2 separate regions of the Homo sapiens genome follow, and region 1 is linked to region 2. The links come from fine-mapping of genetic effects on gene expression. Tissue or cell type: tibial nerve. Region 2 holds a variant in brackets; the other region holds the start of a gene. All regions are shown on one strand. Distances are between the middles of the regions.

Region 1 (8,162 bases), 250 kb after region 2:
GAATGAACTGGACCTGCATACCCTCCTGTAAGCCACCAATGTCACCAAGGGTCCCAGTGTGCATTATAACTGTCATTGACCAGACAGACCCTGTACTAGGTGTTGTACCTACATTACCTCAGTGAATGCCACCTAACACTATGTGCCCAAGACCACGAAGACTTCCAGCCAGGGAGCTCAAACTCGAGGGCACATAAGAATCACCTTGGAGCTGGTTAAAATGACACAAAAAGTTATGGCTCCTAAATCTGGAGTGGGGTCCAGGAAAATGCATTTTAAATAAGCATCTTGTGGGGCCTTCAGCATCTGCATCACTGTCACAGGTTGCTTATTAAAAATGCATGTTCCTGGCTGGGTGTGGTGGCTCATGCCTGTAATCCCAGAACTTTGGGAGGCCAAGGCAGGTGGGTCAGTTAAGCCCAGGAGTTCAAGACCAGCCTGGGCAACATGATGAAATCCCATCTCTACAAAAAATACAAAAACTGGCCAGGTGTGGTGGTGCATGCCTATAGTCCCAGCTATAGGGAGGTTGAGGCAGGAGGATCACCTGAATCCGGGGAGGTCGAGGATGCAGTGAGCTGTGATTGCATCACCGCACTCCATCCTGAGCCATAGAGTGTAACCTTATCTCAAAAAAAAAAAAATGCATGTTCCTGGACCCCCCCACCTCTGACCTACAGATCCAGAACCTGTACGCTCCAGCCCAGCCCTAATAGGCTAGTGGCTTCCCTTTGGACCCTTGGGACCAGCCAGTCTAGTCACACCACAACCATTGTCCTCAGAGAAAGCCCGTCTCACCATTTGTCCTCCACAGAACATTCCTCCAACCTCCTCCTCCCGTTCTCACTATTCTCTCCATCGCAAACCTTCCCTCTCTGCCACTTAAAACTTCCACTGCTGAGTGAGCTCCCCTACATCTTCCACTCATTCCTTTCCCTTATGAGCTTAGATGAAACCACCAGGGGAAAAATGGCAGACATGAGCTGCAATGATGGCCACCACCCCAACTCAGGGGAGCTCAGTCATCTTAGGCAGCAGGCAGCTGCAGTGATAATGGCTGCCCCCACCCCCCTGGAAACTCTTAGCAGAGTTAACAGAACAGAGCTGTTAACAAAGCTGTGCAGAGTTAACTTAACAGAGCTGTGCAGATTCTCAGCAGCCACTTGACTGGGGTCTTAGGCAGTCTCCAGTCAAGTGGCTGCTGAGAATCTGCACAGCTCTGTGCTTGGGACCCAAGGCCCTGGTAGTGTAGCTCAAAAGTGGGATCTCCTGATCTGTGGGTTGCGCAGATCCGTGGAAAAAGTACGGTTTTCTAGCAGGGTAGCATGATCACTAACCACCTCCCTTGGCTTGGGGTGGGAGCTGCCCTTTCCCCGTGTGGCTCCCAGGTGGGCCGTCGCACCACCCGGCTTTTCTTCACTCTTCATGGGTCACATCAACTGCTTAGTCAGTCCCAGTGAGAGAACCTGGATACCCTGGTTGCTGGTGCAGGATTCACTTGCCATTTTGGTTCCTCCCAGTGGGAGCCTCTGACCACAGATGTTTCTAGTTGGCCATCTTGGCCTCTCCCCCCAGTACTAATATTTTTATATGAAGAAAATAGTATCTTTGAGGTTTTAAAGGCAACTGTGAAATAAAATTGTTTCACCTCCGGGTGAAAAAAATAAAAATAATAAACAAATAAAAATAAAACTCTGTTGCCTACAGATAGAATTCAAAATGCTTAGCATGACCTATAAGACCTAGCATGACTTGGCCCCTATTTACTTGCCAGCAACAGCATCTGTCACTCTTTTTCTTGAACATTACCTTTTCATTGTTCCCTGCTCACATCACACTGTTTTGTAATTCCACACTTCTCTCTTCCAGGAACATTCACCCCAACCTACCCCTATCCTTCAAAACAGTTCATCCAGGATGGCTGCAGTGACTCACACCTGTAATCTCAGTGCTTTGGGAGGCTGAGGCAGGAGGATTGCTTGAGGCCAGAAGTTTAAGACTGCAGTGAACTATGATTCACGCCACTGAACTCCAGAGAGAGAGAGAGAGAAGAAAGAAAGAAAGAGAGAGAGAGAGGGGGGAAGGAAGGAAGGAAGGAAAGAAAGGAAGGAAGGAAGGAAGGAAGGAAGGAAGGAAGGAAGGAAGGAAGAAGGAAAGAAAGAAAGAAAGAAAGAAAGAAAGAAAGAAAGAAAGAAAGAAAGAAAGAAAGAGAAAGAAAACCAGCTCATCCACCATTTACCCAAAAAGCATTCTTTCCCTTCTTTTGTACTCCTAAGGCTTACCTCTATCTTAGCATTTACGCATTATTTTGAAATTATGTTTATGAACCTGCCTCTTAACACTAACCAAAAGCTATTCAAAAAGAGGGATAAGCCAGGCATGGTGGCTCATTCTGTAATTCCTTTGGGAGGCCCAGGTAGGAGGATTACTTGAGGCCAAGAGTTCAAGATCAGCCTGGGCAACATAGCAAGACTCCATCTCTACAAAAAAATAAAAGTTTTAAAAAGGAGAAATCTTAACTGGTCTTTATGCCCCTGCCCTAAAGCTTACCACAATGCCTGCCACATATTGGACCCTCAAAACAAATTATTGATTAATTTTCACAATGGGACTACAAGGCAGGCATTACAAATGAAAAAAACTAAGTCCCAGAAAGCCAGTTACATTCCAGGGGATGGGAGGGCAGCAACTTGAAACCAACTCTACCGCTAAGGCCTAGGCTCTCTCAAGTACAACCTGGAAAACATGAGTGAGCAAGGAGATGGAGGTGAGAATGAGGTGTCAGGGCACCCACCCAGGACATGATGCGTGAGGAATGGAGGGATATGAAGGTGGACAAGATTCTCAAGGGTGGAAGAATATGGTCATGAGGCCTTGGCATTGTGGCTTCTAAGCAGAGCCCTGATACGCTAAACTGCCTGGCAATATCAGGCCAGGCAGTTTGGTCTGACATTGCCAGTTTAGCTGCCCAGGCATGTCTGCTAGCTAAATCTAAATGCTGGGCCTGAGGTCAACGTCCCCACAAATACCCACAACTCTGCTGCACAACCATATTCAGAGTCCTGCACTTACTCAGCCTCTGCTTGCTGAGCAAGCAGATACTACCTCTCTTGAGCACAAGCCTCCAGGAAGTTCCTAATGTAGATCAAGGTGGGAATATCCATGGAATATCCAAATTATATTAGAAGGCCAGGCAGGGTGGCTCACATCTGTGATCCCAGCATTTTGGGAGGCTAAGGCAGGCGGATCACTTGGGACCAGGAGTTTGAGACCAGCCTGGGCAACAGGAAAAAACCCTCTACAAAAAAAAAAAAAAAAAATTAGCCAGGCATGGTGGCATTCACCTGTAGTCCTGGCTACTCAGGAGGCTGAGGCAAGCGGATCAATTGAGCTCGGAGATTGAGGTTGCAGTGAGCCATGATGGCACCACTGCACTCTAGGCTGGGTAACAGAAGGAGACCCTCAAAACAAACAAGCATACAAACTAACAAACAAAGTATATTAGAAGATAAATAAATATGGACTTGAGTGGACAAGAGCATCTTTGCGCCTCAGCCTCTCCTGAGAGGTGCCTCTTCTCCCACCCACCTTCCAGGGGCCTTCCCCTACAAACCTAAACATAGAAGGCAGCCAATGAAAGGGACCAAGAGGCAGATTCCTGAGATAAGCCAAGGAAAGCCCAGGCCCAGGAGCCCACAGAATGAAAAGAATATTCTCAGACAGTAGCAAAACAGGAAGACTGTTCGACACAGCTGAATGCATGCATCAGAACATGGCCGTCCCCTGCACACCCTTCTCTGGAGCTCTTAGGCTAGAAGATGATTTCTTCTGGACAAGGAAGACACAGGACATGGGGTGAAAATAATTCCAGCAAAAGAAAGCTAAATACACCATCCCGTGTTTACAAAACACAGGAAAAGTAGCGAGGGTATAGAGAACCAAGGATAAAGGCAGGATGCCCTTTTCTGGTAAACTTCATGCCAAACAAAGGTGAAGGGCCAGGATTAGCTCATTAGCGGGGAACTCAGGGCAAGAACACCCTGCCCTCTGTTCTGTCCTCACCTGAATCTCTGGGACGAAGCCAAGTTGTCACCTCCCTAAATGGTTCTAGAAACAGAAGAGTTCATGCCCTGCCTGGGGAAGGGACTTCTAGGTCTTCAGCTCTAATCATATGTTTTATGCACAGGTGGAGACATTCAGATCCATGGCCCTCACCCTGTTTCTGCTCTGCAGACTGAGATAAGAGCCTTACGTTTACAAAGTTTCACAAGAAACTGGAATTTGTTGCCCTTCTTTTCCACCTCCCTTCAGCCAGCTCCACTTTTCCTCGGATGCCATGGAGACTCGTAACCAGCTGGACAGCATACATCCCAGAGCTGGAGGGGAGCACAAGCGACCCTGACTCACCTGCCGTTGCTCAGAAGGGAGAGAAACCTGTGAAACTCGGAAATTCCCTCTGGGGGAGGTGTGGCCAGCTCCCAGGCACCACCTCCGCGGAATCTCTCCAATCATAACAAGAAGAAGGAAAACAAGCAGTTATCCAGTGCTTTCTCTATGCCAGCCATCACGCTCCACAAGTATTATGTCGTTAAAAGTTCCCAACAGCCTTATGAGATGGGCACTGTCATTCTCCCCACTTTGTGGATAAGGAAATAAAGCAGTCGCATAAATTGGTCTGGGGTCACCCTTGGTTTCCCATTGGAGTGTAGGCTTCCTGAGGTTAGAAGTTGTTTTTATGGGCTGGGTGCAGTGGCTCACGCCTGTAATCCCAGCACTTTGGGAGGCTGAGGCGGGCGGATCACCTGAGGTCAGGAGTTTGAGATGAGCCTGGCCAACATGGTGAAAACCCGTCTCTACTAAAAATACAAAAATTAGCCCGGTGTGGTGGCAGGTGCCTATAATCCCACCTACTCGGGAGGCTGAGGCAGGAGAATCGCTTGAACCCAGGAGGCGGAGGTTGCAGTGAGCTGAGATTGTGCCATTGCACTGCAGCCTGGGTGACAGAGTGAGACTCCCTCTCAAAAAAAAAAAAAAGAAGTTGTTTATATGACGCTTTGGGAGTGATATTAAGAACATAAATGCTGACTGACCAACTGAAAGATTCGAAGCACCGTGGGTATTTAATAAATGTTATTATTGATTGCTATTAAAAATCATTAATATGATTTTATATGTCTCAGGAAGCAGTACTACAAATAATTCTGAAGTTACTCTATCAATAACAAATTATGTAAGTGACAAAATTGCATTTGTTCACAAGGCTAGAAATAGAGCCTAATTGTTTTCAGGAATGTGGACATTATTTGTTTTTGTTGATAAGAAAGATTAGCTGCTATGGTATAAGTAACGATATTTAGTTGCTACTACATAGTATCAAATCAGTGCAAAAGGAAAAATCACAGATCACGAGATATATGGCAGAAGTTAGAAGAATGTAAGGGAATTAAATGAATTAAAGGCTGTTTCTGTGACTCAATTAATTAAATGATATTGAAAAGAGAAGGTAGAAAGCTGGATTCAGGGCTGATTTTCAGGAGCCTAGTTGTAAATAATTAGACCACCCCTTGGATGTGTACACGACATCAATACCTCATAGCCTCCACAGGAGCAGGGTTCATCTCCTCCTCCCAGTACCTGCAACAACAGAACCAACACGGAGATGCCAGCACGGAAATTCCCACGATCACAAACCCCACCTTTCTCTTATCATTCTGCTCTACCTTTCTTTTCCCTATATCCTTAACTTCTTACATTTTAAATCTTGTTTTCCTGTAAGCTGCTTTAAGTCCTACCTGAATAAGGCAGGGTATCAGAAAATCAATACACTCTTCAGGAACTTAACCGAAGGGAATTTCCTGTGAGAGCACATGGCCTTGACTTTGCCCCTGGAAAGGTGTCCTCGTCACATCCTTGTCAGACCACCACAGGAACCCACAGTTCATCCTGCCTGTTCCAATTCATGTCCCACTCATTAAACCGTCCTGGTTTTTTTGTTTTGTTTTGTCTTATTTTGTTTGCTGCTGAATCCTCTGGTTAAACAGCAGGAGCAATGCAGCCAAATGTCTTGATAAAATGTCACACCTTTCCATGAAATTTCTAAGTGTAGCTATGCAGGACAGAGGAAGAGCCACTTGTTTCCAGTTACTGACCTAGGTGGGCTTAGTTCTCTTCAGGTTCCTGCAGTGGGTTTCCTCTCAAGCAGAGAATTCTTTCCTCTCAAAGGAAGAAGCCACACTAGCCATGTAAAGAGAGTGTCCAAACCTTCCTCTTCCGCAGCTGGAAATACCTTCCCAGTTCCTCTTCTGTTTGGGGACTGGGAAGCTCTGAGTCCCAACTTCTCTTGTCCAGTTTCACTTTCTCACCCACCAACCCCTGCTCTCACTCTACCACTAAGTGCCCTCAACACTGATCTCTCCCTAAAAGTGACTGAAATAAATGTCCAATTTTGGGGGGATGACTGATTCTAATGTTGGGAAGAGAAGCTTAAAAGATCTGACCTCCTACTCAGTGAGAAAGGGGTCCTTGAACACCCTTCTTGAGACGTAACCTCCCTACTCCTACTTAAATGCTAGCAATTCCTGCTTTTTGCCACAGTAATGCAAGGCATTTCTGGAAGTTACGATGCAAACTAAATCTTTTTAGATCTCTGGTTTCAAAACTTTGGATTTTAGGCACCTAGATAGGTGCTACGTTTTCATTTTGTTAAATAAGGACATTTAAAAAATAAATAGGTGCCCCCTTCTGCGCAGTCACACTGAGCCAGTGCCTAGGCCTGGAACCGGGCCACGGCCCCTCAGCTTCGTCCACCGCCTCCCGACCATGGACCCCCACAAAGTGAATGCACTTCGGGCTTTTGTGAAAATGTGTAAGCAGGATCTGAGCGTTCTGCACACCAAGGAAATGCACTTCCTGAGGGAGTGGGTGGAGAGCATGGGGGGTAAACTATCACCTGCTACTCAGAAAGTTAAATCAGAAGAAAATACCAAGGAAGAAAAACCTGATAGTAAGAAGGTGGAGGAAGACTTAAAGGCAGACGAACCATCAAGTGAGGAAAGTAATCTATTAATTGATAATGAAGATGTGATTGAACCAGACCCTGATGCCCCTCAAGAAATGGGAGATGAAAATGCAGAGATAACAGAGGAGATGATGGATCAGGCAAATCATAAGAAAGTGGCTGCTATTGAAGCCCTAAATGATGGTGAACTGCAGAAAGCCATTGACTTATTCACAGATGCCATCAAGCTGAATCCTCAGTTGGCCATTTTGTATGCCAAGAGGGCCAGTGTCTTCATCAAATTACAGAAGCCAAATGCTGCCATCCGAGACTGTGACAGAGCCGTTGAAATTTATTTCAGCTCAGCCTTACAAGTGGCGAGGTAAAGCACACAGACTTCTAGGCCACTGGGAAGGAGCAGCCCATGATCTTGCCCTTGCCTGTAAATTGGATTATGATGAAGATGCTAGTGCAATGCTGAAAGAAGTTCAGCCTAGGGCACAGACATTGCGGAACATCAGAGAAAGTATGAGCAAAAACGTGAAGAGCGAGAGATCAAAGAAAGAATAGAAAGAGTTAAGAAGGCTCGAGAAGAGCAAGAGAGAGCCCAGAGGGAGGAAGAAGCCAGACGACAGTCAGTAGCTCAGTATGGCTCTTTTCCAGATGGACTTCCTGGGGGAATGCTTGGAATGAGAGGGGGCATGCCTGGGATGGCCGGAATAACTGGACTCAATGAAATTCTTAGTGATCCAGAGGTTCTTGCAGCCGTGCAGGATCCCAAAGTTATGGTGGCCTCTTCCAGGATGTGGCTCAAAACCCAGCAAATATGTCACAATACCAGGGCAACCCAAAGGTTATGAATCTTATCAGTAAATTGTCAGCCAAATTTGGAGGTCAAGAGTAATGTCCTTCTGATAAAGACCGTGCTGAAGGAAAAGCAACCTAGATCACCTTATGGATGTTGCAATAATACAAACCAGCGTACCTCAGGGGTGCTTTGAAGATAATCCATATCCCTCTCCCCCAAATGCAGCTGAAGCATTTACCATGGTTTGCCATTAGGGTATTCATTCAGATAATATTTTCCTACTAGGAATTACAAACTTTAAACCCTTTTTAAACCTTAAAAATATTTAAAACAAATTTAAAGGGACGGTTAATTCTT
Region 2 (8,198 bases):
CTCCATGGAGTGGGAAGGGCTCTGTGGTGGACCCTCCAGCAGGCAGCATAGCCACCTGCCAGGTGTTCACCTCTCCAGGACTGCCTCTGCCTAGCCTGGACGTAGAACCTAATCTCAAAGAGGACTTTTGTTTTTTAAGGATTTCCTTCCTCAGGCTGGATTTCTCTCCACTTTCCCAAATCCCTGCTGTCCCTAGGATAGGACTCATTTATTCATCTCAGTAAACAAACATGCACTGAGCACTTACCACAGGGAGGATCCCACAACTCGCCCTTGTTATTGTGTAATGTGCAGTCATCTGGTAGAGGCTGCAACCACCCAAAGACACAATCAGAAAGCATGTGGAGGGAGGGGGTCCAGAGAGAAGTCTAATCCAGTCTGAGGGCACTCCTCCAGCCCACTGAGACATCCCTGGGGGATCCTCATTCTTTCCCAGTCAGCCCTCTGTTCTCCATTTATCTCCTTTTCAATGATTCTCTCTTTTCCTTCTTCCCTAGACATCTGGAGTCTCCTGCTGATGTGGGCAGTTTCCTGCTTCTCCTGTAGATAGTGAGAGCCTCACACCCCTACAGGGAGGTGTTGCCTGCAGTCTCAGCTCAACACCCTGGTCACCCTTTGCTCGCACTTGCTGACTTAGTCAGACCTCAGATTGAAGCATCTGAGGATGATGGGCTGTGTGACTAAGGAAGGGGCTGCCCCACCCAGAAGTTTAGATTACATATTTGTGTGCAGGACCTAGCACAGATAGGTCTACCCAGCATAGCTTTTTCTAACTTTGATTTAGACTGAACTCTAGAAGAGCCAAGCAGAATGTAAACCTCATGTTGGGGAGGTCAAGTTACTTTCTAGCTCAAGATTCTAGAGAGACAATTTAGCAACGTGGGCTTTGAGGTCAGGCTGCTAAGGTTCAAATCCCAGCTCTGATACTGGTTAATTAACCATTAGTGGAGTTATTTATCCTCTTTAAACCTGAGTTTCCTCAACTGTAAAACGGGGTAATAATAGCTCATACTTCATGGTGTTTCTGTGAGGATTAACTCAGATAATTTGTGTAAGCCTTCCATAAAGTGCCTGACACATGGCACTCAATAAATGTCAGCTTTATTTTTGGAAACCCGTTTTAGGTATTGGATAGCCCAGACCCCAAGCAAGGCTCTGTGGGAGCCACATCTTGCTGAGAGTGACAGGAAGAAGTTATTTTTAAAACAGATTACATTGCTGGGTTAAGTCCCACTTTTGGACTCTGTTGCCTTTCTCCTTTGATTCCTTCTAGGTGAATCCTAGACGGGTGCCCAGCATTTTGCTTCAATCAACTCTAAGGAAAACACACTCTGGAAAGTCTGCTAATCTAGTCTAGCAACCCAGGGCTGGAAGCTAGGACCAACTAGAGTGACTCACAGCAAATCTCATCTTTCCCTGGAGATGCAGAAAGGAAAGACACCAGACACCGTCACTGAAACTGCCTTGCAAGCCCCCACCTCCCATCACTGCACCAGGAACTTGTGTTTCTCACTTATGACTTGACCCTGGAGGGCTCTCCTCCTCTATGACTCCCCTCTGAGGATGCGGTCACTGCATCAGCCATCTCAGGCAGCACCCTTGAGTTACATGCAAACTGCTTCCCCTCAAAGTTGCGGTACACACCTTACACAGCTGGTATGGTGGGCCGTTGTCAAGTTTCCTGGCTGCCCAGCCCCTTTAAACACCCTTCTTACATTAGAGGAATTTTCCATCCTATGCATCCTGCCTCCTAAAAGTAGAAACAATAACAGTCACTTTCCCAGCCTCCTTTGCAGCTAAGACATAAGCAGGTGGCTGAGGAGCTGCTGGGATGATAAGGTGACATTCTGGGGCCAGATGTGGCATGGACACTGAAGGCAGCAGTGGTGACAATGGTCATGTTCCTGGCAAATTGTGATACAAATTAGAACATCCAGTTGGCGGCAGTGGCGGTGCCACAGCAGTTTTCTCATTAAGCCAGTTCTGCCACGTGTAGTGGAACATTATTCTGCACGTGTAGCCTGGGGCCTGGTTTCCCAGGCTCTGCTGATTCTGTGAGACACCCAACATCCTGTTACTAAACCTTTCCTGCTGTGTCAGCCAGAATTGGCTTCAACTGCTTACCATGAGGAACCCCGATTCCTACAGGCAAAAACCACAGGGAACACATGGTGGCAACATAGAAGTCAAGTCTTACTGAGATCTCTCTTGCTTAATAGATATGTCCAAACCCTTTAAATTCCTGTGCCCCTGGTCCTGTCCCAAAAGGAAACCTCAGACTTTATGTTTTTTTAGGCAAGTGGAGCAGGTTGTGACCCTGCAATCCAGCCTGAGAAGGCATAAACAGCATCTCAGCATTTGTCAAAGCAGCTTCCTCCAGGGGAGAGGTCAAAGCTGTCTTTGTTGGGATGATTCCAAAACAGGCTCCAGGGGCCACAGCTACAGGCTGAGACCAAAGGCCCTCCTCAGGCAGCTGACACACAGTAAGCAAAGGGCCCGAGGTCATGCCTGGGTCCAGAGCTTGAGGGCTCTGAGGTCAGGCCAACACAAGGAATGGTGACGGGAAAGACTGAGGAGCTCAGGCCCGCTCAGAGACATGTCATGAGTTCCTTGGCTGCAGCTCCTGTCCAGGGCTTGGGAGCAGCCACGTTAAGCCCTTCCAGAGCCCTGGCACTGCTGACAGAAATACTGGCAAGGTGCCTGGTCACATATAAACAAATTATCCTTCCCACACTCCTGAGGAACTGAAGAAGGAAGGCATGGAAGACCCTGAGAACCATGCTGGGACTTCTCTACACGCTCCCTGCTAAGGGTCTTCCTGTTTCCAAAGACCCTCTGGTCAGGACACTTGTCTAGGAGACAACTGGCCTCTGGCTAAGGAACAGAGGGGAGATGAAGACACGGGGTAGCTGGAATGCAAGCTGTGAGTTTGGAGCTCTCTGAACCATCTCTTCCAGGTGACTGGGGGTAGCTGGAATGCAAGCTGTAAGTTTGAAGCTCCCCGAACCATCTCTTCCAGGTGACTGCTTGGCTGAGGTCAGAGAGTCTGGGCCAATATGCAAAAAGAACCATGCCAAGCAGAGCAAGAGGAGAGCTCCAATGTCAGAGTGCGAGGTGTTGAACCCACTGTGCCAGATCTACTTCTGGTGACAGGGGGCAAGAAATTTCCCTTTCTGCTCAAGCTAGTTCGGGGGGTGGCTTTTGCCACTTGCAATCAAAATAGGCCAGACCACCACAGGTTCCTGAGACAGAGCCTTAAACATGTTTCCTGTTCTCTGTATGCTCACAACAGTGGGGACAAGCCATCATTTCATGGAAGGAGAGCCACTGTGCTTCTTCTGGATAGAAAGGCAGCTCTTGTTAGTGCATGACCTATGATTACCCCACAACAGAGCTAACATCATTCAAACATCCACAAAATAGCCTACAGTCATGCACCAAGTCACAGCCTTTTGGAGAAGCTTCAGCATGAAGTCCAGAAGACTTTAGTCTGTAATTCCATATAGATACAGACAAAAGATCCAGGTTTTTTCTCCCCTCCAGCCCTCATCTTTGGCCCTGACACCCTCGGATTGCCAGGCTTGTCTCAGAAGATGCTGGGAACTGTCTAACTGCCCCTACCAAGTTAAGCACAGCAGGAGGCAAATAAAATGAGGCCCCGCCATCCCATTGTCCTGGGCCCCTCCCACCTTGGGCTGTCCAGATTCAGGGCTGGGCACCAAGCTTAAGCCACACTCCCTACATTCTTTTTTTGGGAAGCTGGCACAGACCTCCAGGCCTTAGCCCAGCA[G/A]CAACTGTAGCTTTGTTACCCTGGGGCATGGAAATTTCCCTCTCCCTGACAGCCTCATTCATTTGTCTCTTAATTAGACACAGTCCCCCACGGTGCTGTGTCCTCCACTGTGATCTTTGACAAGCTCCTAGAGGGCCTCCCCACTGAGTCATGTGATCAGAGGGAAGTCATCCAGTCCAGCCCCTGCTTTAGGCTCACTCCCAGCACCCCCGCAGCTCCCAGCCCAGAAAGGGAGTCACGTCTCTGAGAGGCAGCTGTACCATTGCCGGCTTTTCAGTTGTTAGAAATTTCTTTTCCCTATTCAGCTAAAATTGGCCTCCCTTCCACCCCATTCCCCTTCTATCTTATCACAGATGTAGTTCATTTTCACATCCATAGGACAGGAATTTATTGAAAAACAGATCTTTTTGTCCTTATAAAAAAAAAAAAACTCTTTTTCACCTAAACAACCTGTTTCCTCTCCTGTTCCTTATGGTTTTCAGACCCACAGCCATTCTATCCATGGTTGCCTGGATACTTTACACAAACAAACGTTAGACTACACTGCAGCATCAGAACTAAAATCTACTTCAGGTGAGGTCTTAAAAAAAAAAAAAGCCCACACATTAGTTAATTATAATTTAACTTATATCCCTCCCCCTCACTGTCTAGAACTTGAATAGTTGGTGAGATAGAAATGGCTAGTTGCCTCCAAATATCCATTTCCCCTTCTTTTCATCAACAGGATCTAATTTTTTAGCTGGGCATACTGTCACCTGGGTAAAACAGTCCAATTCCAATCATCCATTGCAGCTGTGTTACATGTAACTAATTTCTAGCCAAAGAGACATAAGCAGAAATGTGTGAGAAACTTCCTGGAAGCCTCCTTAAGAGTGAGAAGGTGGACCCTTCTTTCTGCCTTCTCCATTCTGCTTCTGGAACTCAGATGTGATGCCTGGAACTCTAGCAGTCATCCTGGACCACGAGGATGTGGACTGTACACTTGAGCAATTAGAAGGGAACTGGTTCCTGACAACTCTGTGTTGCTGGCTGCCCCCACTAGCTTGGGATTGCCTAACTCTAGACTTGTTTTATGCAAAAAAAAAAAAAAAACTTCTCCTTTATTTAAGCTATATAGTATTTGAGTGTTTTCTTAAATATGCATTAAGACCTAATCCTAAATTTGCCACCCTGAAGTTATTATAATGAGTTGTATATGTACCCCAAGAAATTTCTCAACCAGATAATTCTGAAGAAACTCCAGCTCTCATCGCAATTTTTTTCTCTTGTCTTTTTTAATGCTTAACAAAACTTTGCTGAAGACTTAGAGATAACAAAAATATTATAACAAAGGAAACAAATTTGGCATACTCGTTTTCTATGGATGTCCTAACAAATTACCACAAACCTGATGACTTAAAACAATAGAAATTTATTCTCTTCATTCTGGAGTTCTAGAAGGCCAGAAGTCTGAAGCCAGTATCACTGAGCTGAAATCAAGGTGCTGACAGGGTTATGCTTTCTCCAGAAGCTCTAGGGGAGAATCCTTCCTTGTCTCTTCCGGTTCCAGGTGGCTTCTGGCATTCTTTGACTTGTGGTTGCATCACTTAAATTTCTGCCTCTACAGTCACATTGCCTTCTCCTTTTTTTAAATGTCAAATATCCCTCTTCCTCCCTCTCAGGAGGACACATATGATTGTTTTTAGGACCCACCTAACCAATCCAGGATAATCTCTTTTTCTTAAAATCCTTAATTACATATGCAAAGGCCTTTTTTTGCCATATAAAGTAATATTCACTTGTTCCAGGGACGAGGACATGGATATCTTTGGGGAGCCATTATTTTAGCCTACCACACCTGGATGTTACGGAGAGCTCCTCTCAGAGCTGAAGCCCTAAGACGATAGTGGTGTCTTATAGTGGTGGTGTCCCCCACCCAGGTCCTGGTCTGTGTCATACTACAAGGACAAGCTTTCTGTCCAGCACAGAGTCCTGGAGCACACCTCCCATAGCTGAGGTATACATAGTTTCCTGACTCCCCCAGACCCAAAGAGAGGGACCTGTTTCTTATGTTTGCCTCTGCCACCTGCCTTTATATCCCACTGCCAAGTCAAAAGCCCACCTGGCCCATTCTCCATCTCCCGTACGAGGATTGGCCTCTTCATAGGATGATAGACAGTGGGATTGCCCAAAGGGATGTAGGGTCCTAGGACTCTAAAAGTCAATGGATCACCTCAGAACAAAGTGACAAAAGATTCACCTATTCATTCATTCAAAGAAAGGTAAGATTGTAAGGTGGCAAGCCTGTATTGCAATTGGAATCATGTAGGCTTGAGCTATAATGCCATCACTTGCCAGTTACATAATCTCTATAAGCCTTTGTTTCCTCATCCACAAATAAGAAGATAGAAAGGAAAATAATGTCCACATTGCAGGGTTATTTTGAGAATTAGGAAAAAAATGTTATGTGTGTGAAGCATATAGCACCAAGCCCGGCTCACAGGAGAAGCTAGATACGCTGAGACTAGGACTCATCCACTCAGTTTTCCCTTCAATAGTGGACTGAACATCCTACTAATGCTGGAGGTGCAGTCATGACCCAGGCAGGCTTGCCATGAAGATGCTCAACCCAGGTCAGATTCCCACACAAGTCATCTACAATGGGATATGTACTCCAGTGCAGTTTTGAACAAAGTCTGGTGGAAGAAGCTGTTGGCTCTTGAGGTTCTTGGCTTGTCATTTTCTCAAAACAATACAGCACAGAAAAATTTACAGAGAAGAGTACATTTGTGCACAGGGCCCCACCATCTAGTAAGGTGGCTGCTGGAAACTCCACTTCCTGACTGCAGATACTGACTTTGAGAGACACTCAACTTGCAAAGGGTGGAACTGAGACCTTCTGCTCATCAATTACTCATATGAGGAAAACAGCTTCCAATTTGGGATTTTTAGTTAAATGCTAAAAATTGGAGGTAAATTAATTAAGATATAACTTCAACAACACCAGCCTTCCCTCAACAGTTCCTAAGACAGGACGGGCAGCATTAATTGTTGCAATTAATTAGGCATTAAACTGATAATGGGTACAGCTGCTAACAATTAACAGCTAATTATGTCAAGCACTTTAACCATTTCACAAAAGAAATGGAAATTGGAGGGAAGGGAGAGTGAAATGAAAAGAGAGAAAGCAGTTACCTCATAAACAAATGAGAGGCAGTTAGCACCAAATGCAGCTGGATCCTGTTGTAGAAATGACAGAGAAAGTTGGTACCAGCCCTGTCCCCAGCAAGGCTGAGCTTCAGAGAAGCCACGTGACTCTGAATTTGAACAGAAGAGACTTGAGTCAAATTGACCTGAATAGTGATCAGAGCCAAAGTATGACAAGCTTCATTCTTAGTGCTTAGTGCATATATATATATATATATATTACATATATTATGTATTTTCATATTATATATATTTTATATTATATGTAATATATAGAGTCAACTTTTATTTTAGATTCAGGAACACATGTGCAGGTTTGTTACATGGGTTTATTGCATGATGCTGGGATTTGGGGGACAAGTGAGTCCCATCACCCAGGTAGTATGCATAGTACTCAATAGGTAGTTTTTCAGCCCCTGGAGCCCTCTTACTTTTCCCTCTTGTCCTAGTCCGTTTTCACACTGCCATGAGGAGCTTTCCTGAGACTGGGTAATTTACAAAGGAAAGAGGTTTAATTGACTCTCAGCTGCATGGCTGGGGAGGCTTCAGGGAACTTCTAATCATGGCAGAAGAGGAAGCAGGCACCTTCTTCACCAGGTGGCAGGAAAGAGAAGAGCAGGGGAAACCACTTCTATAACCATCAGATCTTGTGAAAACTCACTCAGGGGCCGGGCGCGGTGGCTCATGCCTGTAATTCCAACACTTTGGGAGGCCAAGGGGGTTGGATCACCTGAGGTCAGGAGTTCAAGACCAGCCTGGCCAACAAGGTAAAACCCGCCCCCCTACTAAAAATACAAATGTTAACCCAGGCGTGGTAGCAGGCACCTGTAGTCCCAGCTACTTGGGAGAATGAGACAGGAGAATTGCTTGAACCTGGGAGGCAGAGGCTGCAGTGAGCCGAGATCGTGCCACTGCACTCCAGCCTGGGTAACAGAGTGAGACTCCATCTCAAGACAAACAAACAAAAAACCATACAAACAAAAAAACCTCACTCATTACAAGAACAGCATGGGGGAAACCGCCCCCATAATCCAATCACCTGCCTCCCTTCACGCGTTTGGATTACAGGTCCCTCCTTCAACAGGTGGGGATTGCCATTCAAGATGTGACTTGGGTGGGGACACCAAGCCAAATCATATCACCCCTCTAATAGTCCCCAGTGTCTATTGTTCCCATTTTTATTTCTTTGTTTGGTTTTTTTTAGATGGAGTTTCACTCTTGT

Alleles and levels. Positions count from the first base shown, and alleles are read on the strand shown. Sizes are in standard deviations (SD) of each study's normalised expression.
In carriers of allele A in region 2, the expression in tibial nerve of the gene that starts at base 4,442 in region 1 tends to be higher than with G alone (moderate effect, 0.55 SD a copy in GTEx).

Evidence for each region. PIP is the estimated chance that this variant, and not a neighbour inherited with it, causes the effect.
Region 1: it holds the start of LINC02762, and the variant in region 2 is fine-mapped to the expression of LINC02762 in tibial nerve (GTEx, PIP above 0.99).

Annotation. Positions count from the first base shown.
Region 1 is chr11:112,267,029-112,275,190 of GRCh38, reverse strand. LINC02762 (long intergenic non-protein coding RNA 2762) reads right to left here and starts at 4,442. Exons shown (of 4, transcript NR_126004.1): 1 at 4,408-4,442. It also overlaps the pseudogene ST13P10.
Region 2 is chr11:112,519,336-112,527,533 of GRCh38, reverse strand. The region is part of intron 2 of LINC02763 (long intergenic non-protein coding RNA 2763); the gene reads right to left. Among named protein-coding and RNA genes, the nearest start is that of LINC02764, 32 kb to the left of the region's middle. The variant G/A (reference allele first, on the strand shown) is at 3,791.